Regions from separate parts of the Homo sapiens genome. Here region 1 is linked to region 2. Evidence: fine-mapped expression QTL. Tissue or cell type: whole blood. Region 2 holds a variant in brackets; the other region holds the start of a gene. All regions are shown on one strand. Distances are from middle to middle.

The links. PIP is the estimated chance that this variant, and not a neighbour inherited with it, causes the effect.
Region 1: STX12 starts here. The variant in region 2 is fine-mapped to the expression of STX12 in whole blood (INTERVAL, PIP above 0.99).

What each region holds. Positions count from the first base shown.
Region 1 is chr1:27,771,957-27,774,642 of GRCh38, forward strand. STX12 (syntaxin 12) reads left to right here and starts at 1,263. Exons shown (of 9, transcript NM_177424.3): 1 at 1,263-1,469. The coding sequence starts at 1,352. RefSeq lists enhancers at 983-1,132, 1,099-1,599, 1,253-1,402, 1,600-2,100 and a silencer at 1,513-1,722.
Region 2 is chr1:27,821,041-27,823,726 of GRCh38, forward strand. It overlaps STX12 (syntaxin 12), which reads left to right. Exons shown (of 9, transcript NM_177424.3): 9 at 1,191-2,686. The coding sequence ends at 1,289. Among named protein-coding and RNA genes, the nearest start is that of PPP1R8, 8.4 kb to the right of the region's middle. The variant A/G (reference allele first, on the strand shown) is at 1,573.

The DNA of each region.
Region 1 (2,686 bases), 49 kb before region 2:
TGAGCCCAGGAGAAGGAGGATGCAGTGAGCAGAGATCGCGCCACTGCACTCCAACCTGCGTGACAGAGCGGGACCCTGTCTCAAAAAAAATAAAATAAAGAAAAAATCCTAAGGCCATATACAGGCTCATTCACTTTGGGTCTCCTTTCATCCAGGCAAGCAGCTTTCTGTCTTTGCATTTTCCAAAGACTACAAAGCAGGCTGGGGTGGGGTGGGGTGGGGTGTAGAACACAGGAAACGCAGCCAGTTCCCCTTCACTTCTCACTATCTTGATCTCCTCCCAAACCAAAATCCTATGTCTTTCCTTTTAACATAGGCTTACAAAAATGCAGTTTTCTGTGGGAACATTGAGGTCATGCATTCCAAATTACTTAAGGGAACGATTTTTAAATTTTAGGAATCTAGTTCTCCAAGATATCCCGGCTTGGGATATAGATGAACGAGCTATTTGGGAGAGATTTAGACGAGAATGAATTTTAGAGAAGTAGCGAGGTGAGGAGAGAGTCAGCTTAGCGTTTGGGTTTTGCAGTCAAATTTCAGCAAGGCGAACTAACCTCGCTGGTCTTAATTTTCTCATCGGTAAGAGGGAAAATAATAATGCTTACTTTGATGAATTACTTTACTTCAACATTTAAAAAACCGACTCTCCGTTATCTATTCTAATGATAAAAATATAGATAGAGCATCGTCCCCTGCTGTGAAAAATCTTATGAACAAGTGAATTGCGGTGAGGATTCACATAGTATGTGCTCAATAAACATTATTTTATTGTTTAGATTAGAAGAGGGGTGGAGGGAGAAATGAAAGTGGTTTGGAAACCCCAAACACTACCAAAGCCCTGGGGATGGAAGTAGAGAGGAATTTCGGGTTACGATTTGGTTCCGGGTCTGAGTTTCAACGTTGAATTCTCCCATATTTGGGCCTGAATTCTCAGAACAGAATAGGATGTAAGGGCTGAGATCATCTGGTACAGTTTTATGCAAATCGAAAATTCTTGCCTCTTGTCACTGTGCCCTGGCGAGAAACAACACCTCCACCCAAGCTCATCCAATCTCAGCCCCAACTAGGTGACGTCATCTCCCCGCCCTGCATCCCCAAGCCTCGGGGAGTCCTGTCTCTAAGCTACAGTCCCAGCTCCAGTCCCAGCTCCAGTCCCAGCGGCGCCTGCGCACTTTGGACCGGGGCGGGGAGGACGCGTGCGCGCCGCGTGAGGGCGGGGCTAGTGCGCACGCAGCCTTAGCTCCTTCCCCGCCCTTGCTCTTCCCAGTTTCTCCGTCAGCCTGCGGGTCCCGGCTGGCGGCTGCTTCCGGTAGGAGAGCGGTGTAGAGCGAGCAGGTCTCAGCTCCTCGTCATGTCATACGGTCCCTTAGACATGTACCGGAACCCGGGGCCCTCGGGGCCCCAGCTCCGGGACTTCAGCAGCATCATCCAGACGTGCAGCGGCAACATCCAGCGGATCAGCCAAGCCAGTGAGCCGGGGTACCGAGCTGGGGGGCGGGAGCTGTCCCGGGGACAGGCCTGGGTGAGGCTGCCGGGACGCAGGGCCCGGCTGGGGCTACGGCCGAGGCCACACCTGGGGCTGTCTCGGGCTGTCCACCCTGGGGGCGGTGGGCTGCCATCCCCCAATCTGTCAGGCCCGGGTTGCCCGAGGGTCCCCGGCCCCAGCTGAAGCTTGAGCTGCTTCTCTGGAGTTCTGCCCCCACGGTGCTGGGACCAAAACAGCCGACTTGACAGCCCGAGGGTGGGAAGGGGAGTGTGTGTCACCTCGAGAGCTGTGAGTGCGTTGACTTGGCGCAGTGGTCAGCCGAGTTTCTCCTGTCACCCACCTTCCTCCCCACCCACCTCGCTTTCCTCTTAGACCAGTTTGGATGGGGTTGTTTACTGATTTAGCCTTTAGGTTTACATTCTGCTCAGCCCCTGGCTCCTCGGAAATCAGCAACTTTCAATTAAGGGAAGTGGAGAGTGCATGTGTTTGGGTGACTTCATACACAGTTCTTCCTGTAATGAATTCGGAAATCAGACACAATGACTGGTATTTGAAAGGTGGGATGACTTCATTTTAATAAAGAGAATTCACCAACAGCATTTCAATTTACATTATTTTGTCTTTTGTAACAAATAATTGGGGTGTATTTTTGGATTTCAGGCAGATGAGGCTTTTGTTTTCCTTCCCTACTTAGCTGCTCTTGAACAAATCTGGTACACAGGGAAGCTAAGACACTTAGCCACAACCACATAGCAAGTAAGGCATGGTAGAGTTGTTGGTGGAATTCAGAATGCTATTGCTTGTCTTAAAACTCCCTCCTCCCCATTAGGGTCTGAGTGAAACTGTAGCTGAATGAGTCAAATACAGGGTGTTTCTTGTGCTTGAAAATCATCTTGGAGCCTTATAAACAGGAGATCAGCAGCAGCTTTACTTGGAAAGAATGGTGGTCATCATCCTTGTTGTTTATTATTGTTTTGTGAGCTTGGCGTACTCTGTTAATAGGTAGAACTAGTTAGTCCTGAATTACAATTATATTCTATATTTTAAAGAGTGTCACTTTGCTTTCGTTTTTAAACTTTTAAAAATTTTTCTTTTTTGTAGAGATGAAGTCTTGCTATGTTGGCCAGGCTGGTCTCAAACCCCTGGGCACAAGCACTTCTCCCACTTTAGCCTCCCAAAGTGCTGGGATTACAGGCGTGA
Region 2 (2,686 bases):
TAGCATTGGGAGATATACCTAATGCTAGATGACGAGTTAGTGGGTGCAGCACACCAGCATGGCACATGTATACATATGTAACTAACCTGCACATTGTGCACATGTACCCTAAAACTTAACGTATAATTAAAAAAAAAAAAAAGAAGAAATAGCATTTCAGTTGTTTTCCGTGTTCCTGGGATAGCTGTATTTTACCTGGGAGTGCTCGTAAAGAAATTCGTATTTAATAATAGTGTTTCCTTTAAAAACTAGGTGATTAATTTAGTGTCCAACAGTAAAGGAATAATTAAGTAAATTATATACATCCACTCATTGTTGCATATGGGAATTAAGAGATGTTTCTGAAGAGTTTAAACAGAAAAATGTTTATACTAAACATTAAGTGAGGAAAAACATCAAACATCATACAATGTGATCCAGTTATGTCAAATAATATACATAGATAACAAATCAGAAAGAAATACAAAAATGTTGACGGTATTATCTATGGGTGATTTTTTTTTCTCCCTCCGCTTGCTGTATTTTTTTTTTTACAATGAACATAACAGTTTTATACGTATTATAAAATGTTATTAAAATACACATGCACAAATAACTTATTTTATTGCAAATAATGCCTGGCAGCACAGGTATAGTTCCTTTGCAAAATTGTATGTGGGGACTTGGAATTAAAACTTTGAAACCTATACTACTCGGCTGGGTGCGGTGGCCCACGCCTGTAATCCCAGCCCTTTGGGAAGCCGAGGCAGGTAGATCACTTGAGGTCAGGAGTTCGAGATCAGCCTGGCCAACACTGGTGAAACCCCGTCTCTACTAAAAATACAAAAACTAGCTGGGCATAGTGGCACACGCCTGTAATTCCAGCTGCTCAGGAGGCTGAGACATTAGAATCACTTGAACCTGGAAGGTGGAGGTTTCAGTTAGCCAAGATCGCACCACGGCACTCCAGCCTGGGTGACGGAGTGAGACTCTGTCTCAAGAAAAAAAAAAACACCAAACAAACAAAAAACACTTGCACTACTACCTAGTGCTGCTGACTTAAGATTTCTGGGAAAGTCTGTGCATAATTTTGCATGGATAGAGTTAATCTTTAATTACAAGGAGGCAGATTTATGAAGCATTCTTAGAGTCTTACACATACAAATTTTACTTGTTTCATGAGTATCTTGTTTACATATTTCTTTCCTCAGAAAAAATCTCGCAAGAAGATGTGTATCCTGGTGCTTGTCCTGTCAGTGATTATTCTAATCTTGGGACTTATTATCTGGCTAGTTTATAAAACGAAGTGATTGCCTCCGATCGTTCTCCCGCTGAGCTGTTTTCAAGGGCAAGTGCTTGTTGAAGTCTTGCCAGAACAAACTGATCACAAGAAGACAGCATATATCAGAACGTCCTGTAATCATTTAGTTAGAAACTAACTACTAACTAGTCTTTGGAATTCGTGACCTATGGAGACAGTAATTATCAATTTATTGATTCTATTGATTTCTCAAATTAGGAATTAACTTATGTGGATTTTGCTTCCTCTTGTATTCTGATTGCCCTTCATCCCAAGTGTTTACTGAAAATTCC[A/G]TTCTAGATATTCTTGTTTTGACAAATGACACTACAGTCTCGTAATATTGTCTTTTATGTATATACAAAATTTACCTTTTTACTAGCATCTGAGATAGAGTTACTTTCTGGTACCCAGTATATTGGAGTCTGTCAGAAACTCTATAATAGGCCACCAGTTTTTATTATTTAACATTTTTATTTGAATTTCTAAGAAGCCTATTCTCTATCTATTTTGAAAGATTTTGGCACTATATTTAATTGGAAGGTAAAATATTGTACATGTGATCCAGAGTAAATGAGAAGTCTCTATCTGAGCTGGTCAGTTACTGGAGTACATGTTACTAATCTGGGTTTAAAGTTTACTTCATTATCTGCTAGTGTCATCCACAGCAGTTCATCCTCATCCACACTAAGCCATCCTGTTAGCTTTTAAAGGAAGTTAATTTAATTAACATTAATATACTCTATGGGCTCCCTCTCCCACCTGTCTGCATAGAAAGGCAGAATTAGACATAGCATGCTTTGGAAAAGCAAATAGGAATTGTTGGGAATGATTTAATCTTGTTGTTGTTGTTGTTGTTGTTCACTTGTGGTTCTACATTCCTGGTGAATGATGAATGTTGCTGTCAAAGGGCTGCCCCCTACCTTATAAGGGTTGCTGGGCATTTGAAGGCAGGAAGATTTTTAAAGATAGATTGAGGTTGGTTTAAAATTATTCCTGTAAACCAACAATAAAGCAAAGAAGAGGTTCATTTTTGTAAATAACACTGGTTTCAAATAGTGATGTTAGACTTAACCTAATTTATAAACAAGAGATTAATATCTCCATGCATAGTTTTAGACAAAAAAAGATGTTTCAATAAAATTACTGTCTTGTAATATAAATGTTGTCCACTTCCCTTTTCCACAGGCCTAGAACAGTTAAAGGGAACATAATTTGTTTAGGCTCCCACATAAATGTGAATCTGGCCAACAACTTTGGTTCATCCTTTAGTGAATTAGAGGATTTGGCTACCCTGAGTATATTTATATTCATTTCTTCTGTTCTCCTTCTGTTATTATACTTAATCTTCTAAACTAAACTAATGTGAACAGTAGGGAAGCAAGGGCCCAAATGCATAAGTTTCTTTGC